3 separate regions of the Homo sapiens genome follow, and all the other regions are linked to region 2. A link means that fine-mapping ties the variant in region 2 to the expression of a gene that starts in the linked region. Tissue or cell type: whole blood. Region 2 holds a variant in brackets; each other region holds the start of a gene. All regions are shown on one strand. Distances are from middle to middle.

Evidence for each region. PIP is the estimated chance that this variant, and not a neighbour inherited with it, causes the effect.
Region 1: CLEC9A starts here. The variant in region 2 is fine-mapped to the expression of CLEC9A in whole blood (INTERVAL, PIP above 0.99). The same link has a PIP of 0.9 or more in neutrophils.
Region 3: it holds the start of CLEC7A, and the variant in region 2 is fine-mapped to the expression of CLEC7A in whole blood (TOPMed, PIP above 0.99).

What each region holds. Positions count from the first base shown.
Region 1 is chr12:10,027,344-10,035,454 of GRCh38, reverse strand. It overlaps CLEC9A (C-type lectin domain containing 9A), which reads right to left and starts at 4,773. Exons shown (of 9, transcript NM_207345.4): 1 at 4,483-4,773. It overlaps LOC102724020 (a long non-coding RNA gene), which reads left to right and starts at 4,832. Exons shown (of 4, transcript NR_169587.1): 1 at 4,832-4,912; 2 at 7,481-7,656.
Region 2 is chr12:10,066,696-10,074,806 of GRCh38, reverse strand. CLEC1A (C-type lectin domain family 1 member A) reads left to right here. Exons shown (of 6, transcript NM_016511.4): 5 at 1,396-1,514; 6 at 3,294-5,253. The coding sequence ends at 3,474. Among named protein-coding and RNA genes, the nearest start is that of CLEC1A, 28 kb to the left of the region's middle. The variant A/G (reference allele first, on the strand shown) is at 4,620.
Region 3 is chr12:10,126,084-10,134,194 of GRCh38, reverse strand. CLEC7A (C-type lectin domain containing 7A) reads left to right here and starts at 3,996. Exons shown (of 6, transcript NM_197947.3): 1 at 3,996-4,215; 2 at 6,350-6,448; 3 at 7,487-7,624. The coding sequence starts at 4,113. It overlaps LOC105369655 (a long non-coding RNA gene), which reads right to left. Exons shown (of 4, transcript XR_007063208.1): 2 at 2,955-3,114; 3 at 2,403-2,510; 4 at 581-909. RefSeq lists an enhancer at 1-457.

The sequences.
Region 1 (8,111 bases), 39 kb after region 2:
AAAATTTCATGGCAAGGGCAATTAATTAATCATTTATTTGAACATATGTGATACAGAAGTGGGGCAGAGAAGTGCTGGATAGAGAAAGGCGGATCCCTGGCGAGGGCTCCACCCCCGGGCCTTTGCCCACCGACCTGGATGAGGACAGGCACTCCTGCCTTCATGCCCAGATGTTGCATTTCCCAAGACCATCCTGGCCCGCATGTCCCCATCCTGTGCCTATAAAACCCCCAAGACCCTAGCAGGCAGACACATAAGTGGCTGGACATTGAGAGTAGTCATCAATGGAACAAGACATAAGTGGCTGGACGTCAAGAGCATATCGGCAGGCCACCAACTGGTGAAACAAGGCAGAGTTTGGCCGGGACAATCAGAGGAGAGCCTGGGCCACTGAGTGGCCAGACTCCAGGGGAAAACCATCACCCTTTTGGCTCCACCATCCGCTGAGAGCTACTTCCTTTCACTAAAACCTTGCACTCATTCTCCAAGCCCACGTGTGATCTGATTCTTCCAGTACACCAAGGTAAGAACCCTGGGATGCAGAAAGCCTCTGTCCTTGCTATAAGGTAGGGGTCTAATTGAGCTGACTAACACAAGCCACCTATGGACGGCTAAACTAAAAGAGCACCCTGTAACACACGCCCACTGGGGCTTCAGATACAAACATTTACTCCTAGACACTACCGTGGGGCCGGAGCCCCACAGCCTGCCCCTCCCCTAGAGGTCTGAGTAGCGGGGCACTGAAGAAGCGAGCCATACCTCCATTGCACACTCTGCTAGGGGGACAAGAGAACTTTTCCCATTTCATATGTTTATTGATCACTGTGGAAGTCCCAGGCATGTTTCTATTTTCTGGGGACTAATCGTTAATGAATCATACAAGCAATGAGCTTGTATTATAGTAAAGGGTGGGGAGCACAGATAGTAAAGAAACATAGAAAGCAAAGACCAATATAATTTTACATCGAAAGCAAAGATCAACATAATTTTACATCATGAAAAGTGCTACAAATGAAGAAAAGTGATATAATTGAGTTCTTCCAGACAGGCTGGAGGCAGACCCTGGTTGGGCTCATGAGAATTGGTTTGTTTAAGCTTCACTGTCAGTGCTTGGGCAATGTCCCAGCTTTCTTCCTTTTTTTAAGATAATCCAGAATAATCCAAACTTACTTCCACTATGACAGCTGCCATTTATTGCTCTTTCTATATGCTTTTATCAGTTACATTTGTGGTAGGCATTAAACTTATGACAAATTTACTGCTAAGAAAAATAAAGCACAGAGGCTCAGTAACTTGCCAAAAGCCACAGGGCAAGTAAGTGTTGATCCAGGATTTGAATCAATCAGCCTGTCTTCACAGTGCTTCATTTTAATTCAGACATTTTATTATCCTGGTCAGGCATACTCACCTAATTGGGTGACTATATTAATACATTTAAAAATAAATTCCATCCTATATCCATCCTCTGTCTCCTCCTTGTGGCCATTTATTTTTCTTCTGCTTTTAGTTTATTTTTGTTTCCCTTATGCCTTTGATAACTCTGGCTTTCATCTTCATTTTTCCCTATTTCTTTTTTTGTAAATAATTCTGAATTAATTGTCATTCTGGCCATTCTCTGGGTACTATCCAATTTAGGCCCCACTTTAAAAGTGTCCTCTGAAACAGGCATAAGATGTGAGAATGGAAAGACTGTTAAAGAACAGAGTGAGAATGAATCCTCCTATCATGTTAACTCAGCATTTCTTTTAAGGTATTCTCAATCAACAATACTTCCATAATTAATAACTGTGCTTCCATATTTTCCAAGGTGAACAATATTTTCTGACATGTTTAATTCATGTGAGAGCAGCAAGAAAAGTCAAAGGTGATTCCAAGTTTTTGGCAGAGGAACCGTAGGTATGGAATATTCATTTATCGAGATGGAGAAACTCATTGGGAAGAGTCACTCATTTTTTGATGTGTTAAGTTAAAAAATCCTAAAATATATCAAAGTCAATATGCCAAGAATCCAGTCAGATATGTGGTTCTGGAGATCAAGCAATGGTATGGAAATATAATTTTGGACATTATCAATGTATGGCTATTAAGTCATGAGGTTACAAGAGATTAATTCCCATTCTGGCCATTCTATGGGTACTATCCAATTTAGTTCATCCCAGGATAAATTAAAAAAAAAACAAGAGGACCAAGAACTGAATTCTGGGACACAACAACATTTTAAATTAATTTAAGGAGGAATCCAAATCTGAGGGAGGATTGGGTTGTGAATGAAGCAAAAGGAAATTGAAGAGAACGGTGTCCTAGGGAACACTGTATTTTAGAGAAGAATGTATGTTATGAAAAGGGAATAATCTTTTTTTTTTTTGAATGCTTATCTGGTGCGTGAGATGAATTCTGAGAACTAGCCATTAGATGTGTTCATGTGGAGGTTAATGGTGACTTTGACTGGAGTGTTTTCATAGAAATAGTGAAGGAAAAAGCCTAATTAACATAAAGGAAAAGTAGGATGAAACAGTAAGCACAGAGAGATTTTTGAACATTTTTGTTGTCAAGAAAATTAGAGAAATGTTAAGAAGAAATATAAGAAAATTAGAATCGTGTGTATGGGGGCATGGTAAACAAAAGATGGCTTTTGCTTGTTTTTAACATAGGAGATATTATACCATGTTGGGAGGTGAAGGTGAGTGAACAAGTGGAGATGAAAAGAAATTGATAGTGCCAGAGCGAACCAAAGAAAGAAAATTACAAGCTTGAAATCCCTATTGGCCGGGCGCGGTGGCTCACACCTGTAATCCCAGCTCGTTGGGAGGCCGAAGCGGGCGGATCACGAGGTTAGGAGATCGAGACCATCCTGGCTAACACGGTGAAACCCCATCTCTACTAAAAATAAAAAAAAATTAGCCAGGCTTGGTGGCGGGTGCCTTTAGTCCCAGCTACTCGAGAGGCTGAGGCGGAAGAATGGCGTGAACCCGGGAGGCGGAGATTGCAGTGAGCCGAGATTGCGCCACTGCAGTCCAGCCTGGGTGACAAAGCGAGACTCCGTCTCAAAAAAAAAAAAAAAAAAAGAAATCCCTAAGGAGGTAGGTGGATGGATTTTAATATACAGATGGAGATTGAGCATAGATTATGTTACGGGATCTTTGGGATGTTGATTTTCTGTTCAGAAACCTGTGTGGCTGTGGCGTCTTTGCCCGAGTTCTTGTCCTGCGTCTATGGTTGCTAGATTGTATGTTAATATTATACTTAGCTCTGTAAGAAACTGCCACACTGCCTTCCAAAGTGGCTATGCCTTTTTACCTCTCACCAGCGGTGAATGAATGCTCCTGTTGCTCCACATCCTTGCCAGCATTGGATGTTGTGAGTATTTTGGATTTTAGTCATTCAAATAGTATACAGTGGTTTCTCATTGTTGTTTTAATTTGCAATTCCCTCCTAAGGTATGACATTGAGCATCTGCAACACTGAACTTAGCTCTCCAAACAAGGCTCAGCCTTGTCTGCATTCCTTTCCCTACCCTCACTTCCCCTTCTACTTGGAATGTTATTTGTAGCATTTGTTTGTCTCCTGTAACCCTGCCAATCCTTCCCAATCCTCAGAGCCTTCACTGACAGCATCGGGCGGCTCACTCGTTCCTGCTGCCATAGTAATTTGTGCGTAACTTTTCTTGAGATTTATCACATCCTGTTATTATATGCTGTTTCTTCTACCGACATTGGTTGCTACTCCCATTTCTCAACCTCCTGGCTTCAAGCAATCCTCCCACCTTGGCCTTCCAAAATGCTGGGATTACAGGTGTAACTAACTGCACCTGGTCTTGCTACTCCCGTTTCTAAATAAAATTTCAATCTGAGTAAAAACTAAAGCCAATTTCTTCCCAAAATGGTGGGGGGCACTGGACACAATATCGAAGACCATTAGCACAATCAGTAGCACCAGACAATGAGTCAGCAGAGTCACTAAAGCCTCAGGCCACGAGTTAGAAGACACTTCACAGATTAAAGGAAATCAACAGAGGAGTAAGAAATAACCAGGGATGGCCTCCTGGAGATTTCGTGTTTGACTCCCTTTCCCTCTCTATCTCTAAAGAGAAAGTGCAGAGGGCATTTTAGACTGAGGGATCAGTAGGAGCAAGAGTAAGGAAGCTACCTGATTTACAGAGGCTGTCTACTGCCTGCAGTATCAGGCCATTGAAATACACTTAACGTCTTTCCACCAGCGGCTCCAGCCTTCCCCTCCACTTGCATCTTCCCTCATCCATCTCTGCAGATGATACATACTCCCACATATCATTCATTATTTCTTAAATATATCAGCTCACACCTTCATATTATTTTACATTTCTTCAGAATCTTTCCTAACCTAGAATGCCCTTTCCCCTTTCTCCTTTAATCATGCCTTTCTTATAAAGTAGGTTCAGATGACCTTCTCTGTCAGCATCATCTGTAATGACATACCTTCCACCCTACTGCCAGTGGTTCTTACCTCTTCTGCAGAGAGTATCATCAGTTTGAATCATTTAGATCTTGGCTAACATGGGAATCTTTACCATTGTGTGGATCAAATACCCAGATCTTGATAAGAAAAATAAAAATGCTATTGTCACATAAATGGCTGGGTTTAATCATCTGTGGGCCTTAGAGTATGTTTTCTTCAGGACAAGGTAGGCCGTTGTGCTTCACAAGAGCTTGCGAGTTATTTGAGAAGAATCAAAACATGTTGCCAGTCTAGCAGAAAAGCATTTCAACTTCACCACAGATTGCCACAGCCGGGTACAAACGGAAGTCCCGCCCCCTTCCAGGTTGTTGGGGTGGGAGCTGCCGGATGAGCTGCTGCGGCCCTCGGGGCGCAGGACCACACCATCTGCGCAGCCTGCACCCTCGCGGCCCGGTAAACTTGACAGTTTCTTATAGAGGTAAGTATAGTATTAACAGACAATCTAGGAACCATAGAAAGTGGAAAACCTGTACACACTGCTGAGACCAGCTCGGTCTGGGAGACCCTAACCCAGAGGCGCTAGAGGAATTAAAGACACACACAGAAATATAGAGGTGTGAAGTGGGAAATGAGGGGTCTCACAGCCTTCACAGCCGAGAGCCCCGAACAGAGATTTACCCACGTATTTATTAGCAGCAAGCCAGTCATTAGCATGGTTTCTGTAGATATTAGGTTAACTGAAAGTATCCCTTATGGGAAACAAAGGGATGGGCCGAATTAAAGAAATAGGTTGGGCTAGTTAACTGCAGCGGGAACATGCCCTTAAGGCATAAATTGCTCATGCTATTGTTTGTGGCTTAAGAATGTCTTTAAGTGGTTTTCCACCCTGGGCGGGCCAGCTGCTCCTTGCCCTCATTCCCGTAAACCCACCACCTTCCAGCATGGGTGTTAGGGCCATCATGAACATGTCACAGTGCTGCAGAGATTTTGTTTATGGCCAGTTTTGGGGCCAGTTTATGGCCGGATTTTGGGGGGCTTGCTCCCAACACACACAAAAACTGGCACACACATTTTCACAGGAGCTTTATTCATAATTGCCAGACATTAGAAGTAATTATGATGTCTTTCAAAAGATGAGTGGATAAACAAACTGTGGTACATTCATGCAATGGAGTATCATTCGACAACAAAATGAAATGTTGTCAAACTATGAAAAACATGGAGGAATCTTAAATGCATATTACTACGTGAAAGAAGCCGGTTTGAAAAGCTATCATATTATCCTAGCTATATGACATTCGAGAAAAACCAAGACAAAGAAAACAAAGAGATCAGTTGTGACCAATGATTCAGGGGAAGAGGAAGATTGATAGGAAGGGGGAAGATTGCTGAGTAGGTAGGGCACAGGGGATTTTTGTCTGCAAAAATGTACACCCATGTACATAAGCAGGGCTCTGAATTTTTTAAACTTTTCAAATTTTGTGGCAGGGCCTATTGAATGGGTTGAGGGAGACCTTCCTGATTGATACCTACTAATGTATATACAAATTTGAGACAGATATTTTGAGGGAGAGTGGAATTCAGGTACAACATACCTATTACCCCAGAAAGGTGTCAAGTGGAAGTAAAAAAAAAAAAAAAGAGGTGTGTGAGGTAAAAAATTAAATTAAATTCTAAATGAGGACATGGAGGTTCTTGTGGAAAGTTTTTTCTTGTATATATATATATATATATATATATATATATATATATATATATATACACACACACACACACACACACTATGTTTTCTTTATCCACTTGTTCATCAATGAAATGAACATTTAGCTTGTTTTCATATTTTGGCTATTGTGAACATGGGAGGAAATGAGATATTTGTAAGACTAACTCAAACATTGCATTAAATGGTCCATATTTAATATAAAGAAATCAAGATAATTAATATATACGTCTGGCTTTTCAGATAATGGATGTAAGCCCTGTCCTGAAAGGTGGCAATGGAGCAAAAGACCAGTAATATAAAATAATTCAGGAATCCATAACATGGCAAGACAGCAAGGATAAAAATTTTTAGAGGATCTCTAAAATTTCTACCTTACTCAATATAGAGAATAAGGAATTGGTAAATATGCAGGTCTCCTGTCTTTTGTTAAAATTTACAGAGGTGAGGTGAGAAGGTAAGGGTAAGTTAAAAAAATTATTGAGTACCTAATAATAAAATACTATGCTCTCAGGCGAGTCTATAAATGATCACATTTAATTCTTCCTTTGTGTGCAAACAACAGCCTTACAAGTCTGGTAATATCATTCCTAATTTTTAGATATGAAACCTAGGCTTTAGAGGATAAGAAACTTGATTTAGATCACACAGCCTGGTTTTGCATATTGAATAGGATAACAAAAAGAGACAGAGGAAATATATACTTCCTCATTTAAATACTTATTTTTGTCTTTCATTATTGAATTCCAAATCTAACACATCATTCTGGAAAAGAGAATCTAGGGAAATAATAGTGTACAAGAAGAAGAAAATAAAATATAAACCAAAAAAGAGAATAATTTAAAAAATACATCGTATCTTGAATTTATAATTGTTCTAAGGTGGATACATTGTTATTGTATAAAGTTAAGGTTTACACAACAACTCACCTGCCTTCTGACAATTCTGACAATCAAATGCAATACTTTGGAAAGTTTTAGGAGAGCACGTTTCATTAGGGAATCAAATTTTCAGTCTAGGTAAATGAAAAGTATGCTGAAAGAAGAGAATGTACGACTGATCCGGGGAAGAAGCTTTAAAAAGTAAACACTTAATGAGATTTTTATTTATATTGGATTTAATAGAGTTTGGAGGCAGAGGAAAAGGCAGGATAAGAAAACAACTTCCTAACTTGTGCATTTTTTTTCAATGTCCATCCACAGCACAGAAGCCGTGGTGGTGTCATGGAATATTGTCAATTTCGGTTACATTTCATCATGGTCAAGTCAACTCCAGGAGGCAGCATCATGGACGATTTGGCTTATGTTCTGCTTTTGTCTTCTACAGAACCTTGTGTCTCACTGTTGTCTCCTTCCTGGCTGGGGTTATCACATGGCATATCCAACTGTGAGTGTGGGAAGATGGCATAATCCTCTGACTGTGTCAGAGTCTTAGGAAATTGTGACTGTTATAAGATGGCACAATCTCTTCCCTGATGTGTGTCAAGTTCTTAGAAAATTGTGGTGAGCTATTCCTTTTTCTTTTGGCAGGTTTTTGTCTTGGTGTTTACCAAGTGATCCGAGATAGAGAGAGGGAAAGAGGAGAGAGAGAGAGGGAGAGAAGGAGAGAGAGCGGGGGAGAGAGAGAGAGAGAAAGAGAGACAGAGAGAGACAGCGAGATGGGGAAAAAGAGAAAGGGAGAGAGAGGAGACAGGGAGAGAGGGACAGAAAGAAACGGAAGGAAAGAAGGAAGGAGGAAGGGAGGGAGGGAGGGAGGGAAGGCAGGCAGGCAGGCAGGCAGGCAGTTTTATTGCATGATCTGTGCCCTTAACCACAATGATTTGCTTCCATGGAATGAATTTCCTATTTAGCCCTCTGATTACCTAGAGGTAACCTCATACAGATGATCTATAATGAAAGTGATTGGAATACAGTAAGCTTATTTTTTTGCCAGGATTATAATACCTGGTATGATACTA
Region 2 (8,111 bases):
TCAGCTCACTACACAAATTCTTAACATCATTCTAATTACTTCTTAATTTCTACCTACCTCCTGAAATCTGTGATGAAAGAACCTCTGTAATTTTTCTCGGCTACTAATATTTTATAACCCTTTCTCGATGGCTTAATTTAGGCAGAAAGCGAGGCAATTTCTTTGACTAAGACAGTGTGCCCTAGCATAAACCCTCCTAATTTTTCTTATTCTCTTTGATTCCTCTGCCTCCAGCATACACTGCAAACTCAGGTATAAAACTGAACTATATTATATCACGTGGTAGGAAATTGTCTTGTTGAACCTATGTAGTTATTTTCTATCATGAACTTCATATATTTGTATATATTTAAATCTTTTTCATATGATTTGCTTTCAAAATTTTTAATTTGAAGGCACCCGCCCATTTAATTGGAATAAATATTTTCAACTACAGTTATTTTCACCTGTTCACTCTACGACTATTGCTTGGTAATAGCTTCATTTACATTTTCAATAATCTCTCATTAAATCAGTATATTTTATTAATTATCTGAGGGGTTTTGGATGTAACAATGAAACAAAGTGTACGGCCTTGAGAAACTCATTATTTAAATGGATAATTATAATAAATATTTAGATAATTTCTATGTTAAAATATTAGGAGTGCACTGAGCCTGGGGAGGTTGAGGCTGCAGTGAGCTATGATCGTGCCACTGCACTCCAGCCTGGGCAACAGAGTGAGACCCTGTCGCCACCAATCCTCCAAAAATATCTATTAGGAGTGCAGAGTGAGACTAGATAGAAGTAAGTAAACAACTTTTAAAATGTAAACATATGTTAAATATGGATATTGGGAAAAGGATTACCATGTATAGGACTATACACATGTGTGCACATAAATATTTATAGATAGAAATTTAAAAATTTCTTTCTTCTCTTCCTAGTCTAAGACATAAATCATCCTTGCAAATTTTTCTTTTACTTTTTTTCTTCCTTTCCCAGGTATTTATAACGGTTACTACCTCATTCCTGCACTTTTCCCTCCATATTCTTCCATGTCCCAGAATCATTCTGCATCTCTTTGTTAGTCTTTCCCTCATATTTTTATGTCAACATTAATGTTTAATTCTGTGCCTTAAAAGCCATGGGTCAGGAACAAATCTTGGTTGATGTGATTTCCGCTTTCAGAATATCGACATGTGTTCCATATTTACTAAGACAAAATAAGTTATTAAACCTGGACAAATTTCTGACTGGCCTCAGCATAGATGCTTTTTCTCTTAAGCATATGAGCATCAATGTGAAGCAGGACTTGTGTGTGCTTTGAGAAAAGTGCTGGCTGGCCCATGCATGTCTGTACATGTGAGTAATCATGCCACCAAAGCTAAAGCTTTTCTTATGTGCTTTTCACAGGAATTTGCCGCGTCTCAGAGCTACTCTGAGTTTTTCTACTCTTATTGGACAGGGCTTTTGCGCCCTGACAGTGGCAAGGCCTGGCTGTGGATGGATGGAACCCCTTTCACTTCTGAACTGTAAGCCTTCAGGATATTTTATGGGAAAGGCATTTAACAAAGATATTTTGCTTGAGTGATAGAGCTCAAGAATTTGGTCCATCAAGTATTAATCAAACTTCTGCTTTGTACTGGATACTGTGTTTGCAGGAGGATGCCTGAAGATATTTGAACAATAGTGCATCCTCATTTTGTTTGTGTGTGTGTGTGTGTTTGTTCGTTTGATTGTTTTTTGAGATAGGGTCTTGTTCTGTTGCATGGGCTGGAGTGCAGTGGTGCAAGCTCTGCTCACTGAAACCTCTGCCTCCCAGGCTCAAGCTCTCCTCTCACCTCAGCCTTCTGAGTAGCTCGGACTACAGGCGTGCACCACTACATGCAGCTAATTTTTTGTCTTTTTTGGAAAGACAGGATTATGATGTGTTGCCCAGTCTTGTTTAGAACTCCTGGACTCAAGTGATTTGCCCATCTTGGCCTCCCAAAGTGCTGAGATTACAAGCATGAGCCACCGCACCCGGCCAGTGCCTGCTTTTGAACTGCTTATAAGCCAGTGAGGGAGACAGATACATAGCATTAGTAAAATATCAGGGTAGTTCTCTTGCTGCTTTCAGAAGTTTGTGTCTGGGACATACTGCAGATGAGAGAAGGGAGAGACAGAGAGAGAGAGAGAGAGAGAGAGAGATCTTTCCCTGAGTGAGTAAATTGAAGCCCAGGAGTCCAGGCTGTAATGGTGGTTGCCTAAAGTCACACAACTTGTCAGTACCCAGAGATAGCATAAGAGTTCTTGGCTTTCTGTGCAGCAAAATAGGGAGCACATCTTTTAAAAAACACAATCTCTGAGAAAAGATTTGCTGAAAATGTAAGGGGTAATATAAAACACTAGTCGTACATATGCTGTGAGCATTTAGACAGGAGTACATATGGTATCTGTGTTAGTCCATTTTTGCATCAGCATAAATGAATGCCTGAGGTTGGATAGCTTATAAAGAAAGGAGGTTTAATTGGCTCACAATCCTGCAGGCTGTACAAGCATCTGCTTGGCTTCTGAGGAGGCTTCAGGGAGCTTTACTCATGGCAGAAGGCGAAGCAAGAGCTGGCATGTCCAATGGCAAGAGAGAACACAAAAGAGAAGGGGCTGGGGGGAGGTTCCAGGCCCTTTTAAGCCACCAGATCTTGCATCAACTAACTGAGTGAGAACTCACTCATCACCAAGAAGAGGGCACCAAGCCATTCATGAGGGATCCACCCCGATGACCCGAACACCTCCCACCAGGCCCCATCTCCAACACTGGGGATAACATTTCAACTAAGATTTGGAAAGAACACACATCCAAACCACATCAGTATCCTTTGAAAGAGGAAATTGTAATTTCTCTATCAAAATATATCACATTTAAAGCCATATTTGAACAGACACCATTCTTCCCTATATACAATATATCATTATTCTCCCAGGAGACAGGATATATTTGATGTAATCATTTGTATTTTACAGTTAAGTAAACTGAGTTACAGAGAAGGTAGAGAACTTTTTAAGTGGCAGAAACACTATATAAATTTGGAGGAGAACACGTAGCTTCGCTTTAGTTAGAAATGGTTTTTGCTGTTTGGGGTGACCTGCTGTTTCTAAGAATGAGTATGGAAACTTAGGGGCTGAAGAGAAAGAGGCACATGACCCCAGTTTCCCGGTAAACTTATTCTGGTATCTAGACTATAATTTTATAACTCTAGAAAGAATGGGTATTTAATATTTTATTTTAGAAATAAACCGTGATTGAATTTACTTTTTCTTCCTTTCTTAAGGTTCCATATTATAATAGATGTCACCAGCCCAAGAAGCAGAGACTGTGTGGCCATCCTTAATGGGATGATCTTCTCAAAGGACTGCAAAGAATTGAAGCGTTGTGTCTGTGAGAGAAGGGCAGGAATGGTGAAGCCAGAGAGCCTCCATGTCCCCCCTGAAACATTAGGCGAAGGTGACTGATTCGCCCTCTGCAACTACAAATAGCAGAGTGAGCCAGGCGGTGCCAAAGCAAGGGCTAGTTGAGACATTGGGAAATGGAACATAATCAGGAAAGACTATCTCTCTGACTAGTACAAAATGGGTTCTCGTGTTTCCTGTTCAGGATCACCAGCATTTCTGAGCTTGGGTTTATGCACGTATTTAACAGTCACAAGAAGTCTTATTTACATGCCACCAACCAACCTCAGAAACCCATAATGTCATCTGCCTTCTTGGCTTAGAGATAACTTTTAGCTCTCTTTCTTCTCAATGTCTAATATCACCTCCCTGTTTTCATGTCTTCCTTACACTTGGTGGAATAAGAAACTTTTTGAAGTAGAGGAAATACATTGAGGTAACATCCTTTTCTCTGACAGTCAAGTAGTCCATCAGAAATTGGCAGTCACTTCCCAGATTGTACCAGCAAATACACAAGGAATTCTTTTTGTTTGTTTCAGTTCATACTAGTCCCTTCCCAATCCATCAGTAAAGACCCCATCTGCCTTGTCCATGCCGTTTCCCAACAGGGATGTCACTTGATATGAGAATCTCAAATCTCAATGCCTTATAAGCATTCCTTCCTGTGTCCATTAAGACTCTGATAATTGTCTCCCCTCCATAGGAATTTCTCCCAGGAAAGAAATATATCCCCATCTCCGTTTCATATCAGAACTACCGTCCCCGATATTCCCTTCAGAGAGATTAAAGACCAGAAAAAAGTGAGCCTCTTCATCTGCACCTGTAATAGTTTCAGTTCCTATTTTCTTCCATTGACCCATATTTATACCTTTCAGGTACTGAAGATTTAATAATAATAAATGTAAATACTGTGAAGTGTGTGTGATTTTACAATGGACTTATGGTTGGTGGGAAAATTCAGCATGGAAATGCTTTTCAAAATATGATAGCGGTCATTATTTTGATTGTGCCTTACTGAAAGTTTTTGGGGAATTTACAAGAGTACTGATTACATGATTATCTGGAGAAAATAAGATGTCTTTGAAATACGTGTTGGCTTCAAGAAAACAGTTTTAACGTTTTCCTAAAATGAAATCTTTTGAGGTGAGCTTATGGCATCAACACATGGTTGATGAGGAAGCTGAGTTGCATTAGTGCACATGATTTCC[A/G]GTCAGGTCATGGGAAATGAACAGAGACAGTGACATCTTTGTAGCTGCTCCTTTGTGAGGCACTTCTTTCTTGAGACGACTCCATGCACAAATATAACAGGGATCATTGGGAATGACACCATCACAGCCACCAAGTTTATTGGTTTACTGATAAATCAATTTTGAGGGTTTTATGCTAGAAAAGATAACATTATAAATCTTTGTTTTTCAACAGTGGAAACTGAGGTGCTTCAGTTTTGTTTTTCATAAACATCTATCTCATGGTAAAATGACGTATAGTAGCAATCATATGATAGAAAGAACACATTGGTGCTCATTTTCATAAACTTCATTTTGTTAGATTGTCACTTAGCAAAGACTATTGCGGATTCTTCCTTGAGAACTTTCCTTTCAATTTTCTGTTGATTTCCTTAAAATTTTCTTCAGGGTCGAGCAAGTTCTGTTGATATATTGTGTCATGCAAAGAAAACTGTATTTGTGGTTAGAAAATGAAGATTTTAGACCTCTTATTCTGATTTACTTATTAGGCAAGTCACTTTACTTCATGAAACCTATTTCACTGCATATGAAGTAGAAATAATTATAATTTCCTCATAATGTTACTGTTAGCTGAAATAAAGTAAATGTGAAATCAGTTTCATAATGTGAACTGCAATAAAAAATGTAAGGGAAGTCAAGAAAATATTTTTAAAAGGATCTAGTGATTTATTTTTAAATATAGGGGCGCACATACACATGCATAAGCAATGTTAAAAAGAAAAAAACTTCAGCTCAATTAAATTTAAAAGAGTTTAATTGAGCAATGACTCATTCACAAATCAGGCAGCCTCCAGAGCCAGAGTAGACTCAGAGGCTCCAGTGCAGCCATGTGGTGGAAGAAGATTTATGGACAGAAAAAGGAAAACGTAGTAAAGAAAACGGAAGTGAGGTACAGAAAAAGCTGGATTGCTTACAGCTCGGAGTTTGCCTTATTTGAACACAATTCAAACAGTTGGCTACATTTGATTGGCCAAAGCACAGTGATTGGCACAAGTATAGACTAGGGTCTGTTTACCCCTCAACTTGTTATAGTTGACATTATGTACAGAGAATCCTTTAAGCTAAACTTAAAATACGTAAAAAGGCAGCGTTAGGCTAAACTTGATTTATTAATAACAACAAACTTCTTTGGAAATCTGTATTTATGAACAAATTGTAGAAGGGCACCTACTTTGGGGAGCTAAGGATTTTATTACCAAATATTTTTGATGATGAGTGCAGATTTTCGATGAAAGTAGTTCATATAATAGGTACATAACAAGAAATGAGAAGTAAGCCTGCAGTTAAGCAATTGTTATGTAAGCCTTGTTGCTACAGAAAGAAAATATGACTGATAGGAGGAAGTCAAATGATTTTGTGGACTAAGCTGTAAAACAGAGACATGCACTCATTTAAGTTTTGACTCCTAGCATCCTATGTGGCTGCAGTCTAGCTCAGGGATGGATGACAAGCCACTCTTTAAGTGCCATTGATGTGAAGGGTCTAGCTGCCTAGAGTGAGTTTTGAATGGTATGTCATTCCAAGTCTGGGACTAAGGGATAGTGTCACTTTAGATTGTGAGGAGGAAAAAATAGCATACATTTGACATACTTCAGCTCCTTCCCTGAGTTTATTCTTCATGTTTCCCCTTAATCCCTTTGTCTTTATAGCAAAACTCACAATATTGATCACAATGTGAACAAACATTTCAAAACAACAGAAAAAAGTGTATAGCATAGCATTCTCACTACACACTTTAGAAAAATGATATTAAGAATAGGACATAATGATAAAGTGAATTTTAAAATCTGATTTGCTAAGAACAATATCCAGTTGAGAATCAGAGAGGGGCACTGTATGAACTGGTTTTTCTGGATGAGGAGACTTTTTTCTTTCTAGGTTCTTGTTTATGTAATTCTGAAGAAATTGCAGGAACAGTCAAACGAGGAGCCCAGCCTTTCCTGGTAGAGCTGAGATCTCCGGTACACAATAAGCTCTTTCTTTTCCTGAGGATATTGAACCAGCTTTCAGGATTTATCAACAGGAAACAGGTCATGAGCCCTGTAACAGCAGGAAGTGTGAGAAGAGTAACGGGGAGCTTTTATTTTGAGGATACAAACACATTATGAACAAGGAGAAAAGTCTAGTAGGTTAGCAGGTTGTCTCTGGGCCAGCTTTAATATTTGGGAGTCAACTCCTCTGTAGAGAGATTCTTACAGTATTTGAAGATTACAAACAAATCAGGATCCTCTGATTTAAAGTCTGCGTGACTTTTGTACACGCTTCATTATATGAATAGATTTTTAGGCTCGAATAGTATCTACTATTATTCTACCAATATTATTATGTATACTTTTTATACATTTAATGTACTTTAACCAAACATGTAAAAAAACTCTTCACATTTGCAGGATAGTTTTATTTTTAGTTTTCTTTTCGTTTGTTTAAGACTAACTTAGAACTCAATGAAAGAGATCTAAGATGCCCAATTCATTGTTGGTGGGACTAGGATATAAGACTGGCATACTCAGTGTTGTATCTGAAAAGCCTTGGTATCCTGGACCAAAAGCAACCTGCAGAGAAGAATCACCCAACTATAGCATCTGTGTGGAAAGTAGCATCGCTGCTGAGGAGATTTGTAGGAGCTGAAGTCAGCTGCGCTGTAGATAAATTCTAATTTGAAAATACTGCATCATACACTACGGGATGACATCAGCTGAAGGATGTTTGCCTTTTGCTTTATTGTACTTCTTAAAGAATGATTATAAGTGCTTCGTATCCTTCCTCTAAACATAGTTCCATGACAATACTTTGAAGAATCTTTAAGGCAAACAGTCTTTGCTAGTAAATTCCACTATTGTTTCTCCTTTATTCCAGGTTATTACATTCAGCTGCCAGCTGTCAGCTGTAAAAATCAAACACAGGAGACAATATATGCTGTGTTTTCTCTGCTATTCTCCTTTTTCAGGTTCTGCAGAAAATTAGAGAAAAATCTCTTTTACTTAAACTCCCACATTTAAACTCTAGGTCAAGGGTAAATAAACAAAAACATGCTCTTCTCATCCTTACACAACCTTACCCATTGTAAAAGGACATTTAGGTAAGAGGATATTTAGTTTCATTTAAATGATTTCCAGTGACTCAGAGAATTAGGTTTTTTTTTTACTTTATATATTTAAGTGATGCCTTTATGCTTAGGAAGAAAAGATGATAATCTAATGAATCTCAGCTCCTCTTTATGAGAAATGAAGAATTAAATAAAATTATACTGAATTAAGCAAATATTTATTGAGAACCTACTATGTGGTACGGCGTTCTTGCAGGGACGTAAGTGGTAACAAGTAATATAATAATAATTAAAGAATCTGTTCTTTCTGTAGATCACAGGGTTCTTTGCTATTAATGGTCTCTAGGGAATAAGATAGTCCATGCTTCAGGGAGTCTACAGACTTAGGGCAGAGAATGTCTATAGAT
Region 3 (8,111 bases), 59 kb before region 2:
TTTTCAACAAACTTCACTGAAAATGTAAGTTAGATAACTGGTTTGTTTTTTGTCTTTTCTTTTGTTAGGTTGGTTTGTTTCCACCTGTTTCTTTCCTTTTTTTTTTTTTTTTTTTTTAGATGGAGTTTCACTGTTGTTGCCCAGGTTGGGGTGCAGTGGCACGATCTTGGCTCACTACAACTTCCACCTCCTGGGTTCAAGTGATTCTCCTGTCTCAGCCTCCTAAATAGCTGGGATTAAAGGCACCTGCCACCCCACCCAGCTAATTTTTTATATTTTTAGTAGAGATGGGGTTCCATCATGTTTGCCAGACTGATCTCAAACTGCTGACCTCAGGTGATCCACCTGCCTCAGCCTCCCAAAGTGTAGGAATTACAGGCCTGAGCCACCATGCTCGGCCTTCCACCTGTTTCTTGCATTAACATTTAATGAGGGGTATTTTTCTCTGAATACCCAGCCTATCTCTCCCACTGTCTTGAAATACGAAGGGTATTGTTTTTCTAGTTTGTCAATGATTTGCATAATTAATGTTTAATTGCTTTATTTTAGACAAAGAGACAAAAAAGGAGAATAATGAGAATTAGACTAAAGTTTATGTTTATTGAAAAATTTCTTTGACCACTTAGAGAGTTAACTGTTTTCATAGGATTGTGATTAAACACAGGGTGACAGTCAAAGTCACTATAGGGAAAAACTCTCCCACTGGAGGTCTGATTTGATAGTAAAGACAGCTTCTTATTACTGACTGCAAGGTACTCCCCTCATTATTGTTCTCTAGTTCTCTATTTCTATTTAAGAGGTCGACCCTTTTTCCTGGAGCCAATGTATTCACTGTTTGAGAAATTCCATGGTATCCCTTTGTAGGGGTGAAAGATTCCTTTTCCTCACTCATTGCTAGGTTCACGGCATCTACAATAAAACATAGATCAACAAGAGAATAGCATCCAAATTTATTTAATAGAAGTTACCTGAACAAACAGGCCTTGTTAAGTTCTACTCAGCTTATTACCATTAGATTATACCCTTTTGTTCTCCAGTCATACTTCTGCATAACTGTCCGTAGAAATACTCAGTTTTCCCTGCGTCTTCATTTCAGAAGGCTCTCTTGTCGTATAACATTTACATGCTTTTGTTTTGTTAATCTGTCTTTTGTTATAGGGGTCTCAGTCACGAACCTGGTGATGGGCAAGGAAAAGATACTACTTTTTCTCCCCTACGTTGGACAAGGAGGGTATGATCTAATGCTAATAAACTGGAGGGAGCTTAGCAAGACTAATTTGTTCAGATTCTTCTTGGCATCTCTGTATCTTCAAAGATAAGGAAGTTTCTTTCCTCTAGGAAACAATACTTCTAAAATAAGGGTCTTATGATCTGCTTCAGGGCAGAAAGACGGGGAAAGGTGTGAGAGTGAATTTCCTGATTCTGCTGTTTTCTCAAATGCCAAGAATCCATATTTTGGGGTTGCATGTCCTGAACCTCATACGCTGCTTTCCAAGCACTGCATTATAGGACTGAAACACTGATGAATGTTGAGATTAAGATCCACATTACCACTTTGCAACATGTCTACAAAAACTTAGTAAAACTTTTGTGGCAGCTTAAGTAAGGCGGGAAGCTCATTTATGTACTCTCTTGAGCTCTCTTCCATTTTGATAGGTGTTAGACTGTCAGAACTGCAGAGCCCTCATCATATAACAACTCCTCCCAAATCTCTGCACTAGAGACTTGGCAAACTCTAGCACGCCTTCTAGTAGCCTAAGGCAAGGTCCATAGGATGATTCAGCACTACTTAAAAGGCCAGCCTGAGGAAGCCCAATGCTGCTAGGAGAATTTACTTTTTGTTCCAGTTAAAACTTGTTAACAGGCCAGGTGTGGTGGCTCATGCGTGTAATCCCAGCACCTTGGGAGGCCGAGGCGGGCGGATCACGAGGTCAGGAGATCGAGACCATTCTGGTTAACACGATGAAACCCTGTCTCTACTAAAAATACAAAAAATTAGCCAGGCATGGTGGCGGGCGCCTGTAGTCCCAGCTACTTGGGAGGCTGAGGCAGGAGAATGGCGTGAACCCAGGAGGCAGAGCTTGCAGTGAGCCGAAATCGCGCCACTGCACTCCAGCGTGGGCAACAGAGCGAGACTCTGTCTCAAAACAACAACAACAACAAAAAACTTGGTAACAGATAGGCTCCTGAATTCCTTTTAGAGCAGTTACTTTAGAAATCTTACAGTTAGGCCAGGTGCAGTGGCTCACGCCTGTAATCCCAGCACTTTGGGAGGCCGAGGCAGGCGGATCACCAGAGGTCAGGGGTTCAAGACCAGCCTGACCAACATGGAGAAATGCTGTCTCTACTAAAAATACAAAATTAGCCTGGCGTGGTGGCACATGCCTGTAATCCCAGCTTACTCAGGAGGCTGAGGCAGGAGAATCGCTTGAACCCGGGAGGCGGAGGTTGTGGTGAGCCGAGATCGTGCCATTTGCACACCAGCCTGGGCAACAAGAGCGAAATTTCGTCTAAAAAAAAAAAAAGAAAGAAAAGAAAAATAAATCTTACAGTTAAATTCTTTCTCTGCCCTTTGAGAAGCAAATCTACCACACAGAACTGTTTCTTCAAGGACTTGGGAGCTGTTTCTTTGAAATGCAAACATTCAGGGAGATAAATCTTGCTCTTTCTTTCAGATGCAGCATAAGGACCAACTTAGCTGGGTGCTTCACTTCAACTATCACCATGTCCTTCTGTCATATAGATAGGCAAAGTTTCTCTGTCCTCTGGATAAGGGCCAATTAACAAATCCAGAGAGTCTAGTCACATTAACTTTCCTTAACACCACTCAGTATCTTTTCCTTAGCAAACTCCACTTTAAAATGTCATCAGCTTTACTTTTGGGGAAGTTGAGTTCAGTTAATGCTGCACTGGTTCCTGTTGCAATAGTATTACTGAATAAAACCTGTCCTCACCACATTAACTAGTATCCAGATTTGTTGATCCTTGACAACACTCAGATGTCTCCTGCACTCTACTGGCTTCAAGGTCGGATAAATGAGTTGAACACCTCTTCAGTTTCCAGCAATGTTAGGTGTTTTCTATATTTCTTTGATTTGATCATTACTATGGAAACTGGAAGAGAGGGAAAAAAAATCAAACATCTAACATAATATTTCAGTCCCAACACCTTCCATAAGCTGTTCCTTGCAATATAAGTGTATGGAATGATGAAAGAGGCAGTGTAGCGTAACAGAAAAGACCACGAGTTTTGCAGCAAGAGTCAGCTTTGATTTGATTCCTTGCTCTAAATTTTTAAAATTAGCTTCTTAAACCTGAGAAAGAGGCTAAATTTTCTGTCTCATTTTTTCATTTGAAAATAGAAATAATAATGCCTACTATATAGACTTGGAAAAGTGAGATTGAACAAGAAAATATGTACAACATGTGGTACTTAGCTCATAGTAATTGTTCAATAAATGTTATTTTGTGTTAATATCTGATAATTCCCAAAGAGATTTGTTTTCTCTGTCTGTTGTTACAACAATGCATCTCCTCATGCCATCCCTCATTTACCTATCTATATATTTCCTTTATTAAGCAATGAGTTTCTTCATAGGTATCATTTTTCCTTGTATTGTAAGCTCCTACCAATTGAAAAGGTGGGCATCCAGTACCTGTTTATGTAATTTAAAAAATACATGAATAAATACATGAACAAAGTTATGGTAAACTTGGAGCACCAAAACTGAAATAGTTTGCATCGGTTAAATTAATTAATGTCAGACTTAGTTGTGAGAGTAATGAAGGCAGCATAAGACATTAATGTATGCATTTTTCTTACATTTGGTCTGAAACAAAGACTCATCTGCTATGCTGCCTTTTAGTTTTCCTGAGTCAGCAGTCTCAGAAACAGGATCTAAAGGTACAAATGGAAAATTACCACAGCATAGTTTCATTTCCTGCTCTTGAATATCTGGTTGAACTACTTAAGCTTAATTTGTTAAACTCCGGTAAGTACCTAGCCCACATGATTTGACTCAGAGATTCTCTTTTGTCCACAGACAGTCATCTCAGGAGCAGAAAGAAAAGAGCTCCCAAATGCTATATCTATTCAGGGGCTCTCAAGAACAATGGAATATCATCCTGATTTAGAAAATTTGGATGAAGATGGATATACTCAATTACACTTCGACTCTCAAAGCAATACCAGGATAGCTGTTGTTTCAGAGAAAGGTATATATATGTTTTTTCTAATGTGTGCCTTTAGCTCTCCCGTTTGAAAAGATATAAGGGGAGGCTAGGCATGGTGGCTCACACCTGTAATCCCAGCACTTTGGGAGGCCGAGGCGGGTGGATTGACTGAGGTCAGGAGTTCGAGGCCAGCTTGGCTAACGTGGTGAAACTCTGTCTCTACTAAAAATACAAAAATTAGCCGGGCATGGTGGTGCACGCCTGTAGTTCCAGGTACTTGGGAGGCTGAGGCAGGAGAATCACTTGAACCTGGGAGGTGGAGGTTGCAGTGAGCCAAGATCATGCCAATGCACTCCAGCCTGGGTGGCAGAGCAAGACTCCATCTCTGAAAAAAAATAAAAATAAAAACAAAACAAAAAGATATAAGGGGAGAAAATTTGAGAGCCTCGTGATGTGTATATTTTTATGGATATACTTTTAAAGGCTTCAGATGTCACTGAAGATAAATTGAATGCACCCTAAACCTTTTTTCATGAAAATTATTCAGTGACCAATTATTAGTGTTTAAATTAATTATGTCTGATGGCAGAAAATAGAATTTCTCTTTTCTATAGATATAGACATTTCATCAGTGAGGAATTGGTAATAAGTGGGATAATACACAAAGATAAAGGATTTCTGTATGAGTGACTTGTTGCTTGTTTGATAGAAAGGCTAGATTATCGAATGGAGGCCAGGAAACTTAAAGAAGTATATATATGAACAACATTTTTTTTTTGTGGTAAGAGATTAATTTAAATTGTTTTTAAACAAAAAACAATTATTGGTATACCAGTGATGGAAAATATATGAACATATGGTAGATAAAAACATCCCACCAGCAGGACATGAGTCTTAAACAAAGTGTAAATGAAATGAAATAGAAAGAAGGGCATTGGAGGATCTCTGTATTCATAGAATGGGTGATTTAGCCTACTCTACGATTCTCCTATGTGACAATTCTATGAAATGTCCTGACAGCTTAGTCACAGTGGAAAGCAGAAATACATTCTGGTTATGGCAATGTTCATACAAAATTAGTTCCCTATTATCTTTGAGAGAGAGAGATCATTTGTCGGTTTTGACACCAGAGTTTGCTTTCTTCTGCTTTCTGGTTATTCACACTGCACAAATATTTTCCTCTCAGCACTGATGTAATTCTTTTCTTGGGCAACCTATTGAGGAAGCGTGGAAAAAGTGGATGAGGCAAGAGGTAGGGAGACATGCGCATGTTTATGCATATGTGTAGGCAAACGGTATCCTGCAACAACACACCTATCATGTGCTAGCAGTCTCTAAACAAGGTGCTTTTATATGTGTTAGCTCGTTTAATTCCCGCAATAATCCTTTGAGATATTATTACCCCAGTTTCACAAAGAGGAATAAAAAACAACAAAGGGAGTAATTTGCCCAGGGTCATGCAACAAACATATGAAAAGGGAAAATTACCCTTAGTAATCAGTGCTATCTCCCCAACATTAAGCTATTTCCTCTAAGAATCAGTGGGATTTCAGGGATCCTACTAATGTCAAGACCTGTAGATGTCAATGTGGAACTGAAATTAGGAGCATACAGTTATCAAGCCAATGTGCCGAAATTACAATTCCAGCAATTGAAGAAGAAGGTATCCTTACTGGTGGAGAAGCACAGCAAATCCTAGGTGACCAGGTAACCTAGGCAGTGATTAATAATTCACTTAAAAATTTGCCAGTATTTTTTGTTGTTGTTGTTGGTGGTGTGTGTGTGTGTGTGTGTGTGTGTGTGTGTGTGTGTGTTTTAACAGGGTATCACTTTTTTGCCTATGCTGCTCTGGAATTCCTAGGCTCAAGTGATCCTCCTGCCACAGCCTCCAGAGTAGCTGGGACTACGGGAGCTCACCACAATGCCCAGCTAATTAAATTTTTTTTCTTTCTTTGTTTTTCTTTTTTTTTTTTGGTAGGGACAGGGTCTCCCTGTGTTGCCCAGGCTGGTCTTGAGCTTCTGGCCTCAAGCAATCCTCCTACCTCAGTCTCCCTTCTGGGATTACAGGTGTGAGCCACCGTGCAAGGCCAGATTTTTGATGAACTGTAGAATTAAACTGCCCCACCATCCGTCATTCTCTTTCTTTATTCCATTTCTGCCCCCTCTGGCTCCTCAGGATCGTGTGCTGCATCTCCTCCTTGGCGCCTCATTGCTGTAATTTTGGGAATCCTATGCTTGGTAATACTGGTGATAGCTGTGGTCCTGGGTACCATGGGTGAGTATTTGGTGGAGGAGATTAACAACAGACAATTTAGTAAGCAATTATTATGTGCCAGGCACTCTTTTAAGGGCTTGACATGCATAATCTACTTTAATTTGTATATAATCTGGTTTTATCTGTATTGGGTTGGTGCTGTTAATGCCCATTTCACTTATAAAGGGTGTGAGAGACTGAGAGGTTATTTTACCTTTCCAGGGTTATAAGCTAGTTAGTGGTGGGACCATGATTAGAAATTTGGGTGATCTGTCTAAAAAACTCATACTCTTAACTACATTGCTCTCCTACCTCCCTTACATAGCTGGTTTCAAAGCTGTGGAATTCAAAGGATAAATTAATGAAGAAAACAAGCGGAGCTGAAGAAGAAAGTACAATATGGTGCTGTCTTCCTAATGAAATAAATTCACTAAATGGACATTAAGCTATTTTTATGATTCACATTATTTAAGGAAATTATTTCCGATCTTTAATATAAACACCTTTGAATACACCAGAAATTTCCTGAGGCACTTGGTCTTAAGTCGATATTTTGTAATGGATTAATATTTTTTTTACATTTTATATCACATGCAATCTGTTGTCAGTCACCTTCAGAGAGTCTTCATGACATTCCTTAATTAGTCAAATGTTTATTGAGTGCGTTCTATGTTATAGGTACTGGGCAGTTTCTCAAGGATCTCTCATTTTTAAATAACAGAAGAAAGGTGAAAGATGTTGCTATTTCAAATCTGTCATGGGTCCAATTGACTCTATGACATTTGCCTCTTGCTGCCTCCCTCATTCTATTTCTTCTTCTCCACCTTCTTTTTTCTTTTCTTTTTTTTTTTTTACTATACCTCCTTTATAAAAGTTATGTATTTCTTTTCATCTATTCTATCAATCGTCTTTATCTCTCCACAGCAATATATCATCTATTTATCATTAATCAATAATGTATTCTTTTATTCCAATAACATTTGGGTTTTGGGATTTTAATTTTCAAACACAGCAGAATGACATTTTTTCTGTCACTATTATTATTGTTGGTATGTGAAGCTATTTGGAGATCCAATTCAGGAAGCAACACATTGGAGAATGGCTACTTTCTATCAAGAAATAAAGAGAACCACAGTCAACCCACACAATCATCTTTAGAAGACAGTGTGACTCCTACCAAAGCTGTCAAAACCACAGGCAAGGGCATAGTTAAAGGACGGAATCTTGACTCAAGAGGGTTAATTCTTGGTGCTGAAGCCTGGGGCAGGGGTGTAAAGAAAAACACTTAGATTCAATGATTGTAAATTTAAGGCAAATACACATATTAGTATTACCTTAGTGTAATGTATCCCTGTCATATATACAATAAGGTGAAATTATAAGTACCCTATGCAGTTGGCTGGACAGTTCTAAATTGGACTTTATTAATTTTTAAAATCAGTAACTGATTTATCACTGGCTATGTGCTTAGATCTACAGGAGATCATATAATTTGATACAAATAAAAGAAAAGTGTTCTCTCCCCTTACAGAATTGACATTTTAAATGCGATACAGTTAGAATAGGAAATATGACATTAGAAAGGAAGAATGACAGGGAGAAAGGAAAGAAGGGAAAATGTTGCCAAGAATAAGGAAGCTATATTAAAAATATACAAAAGAGGTAGACCTAATACACATGTCCC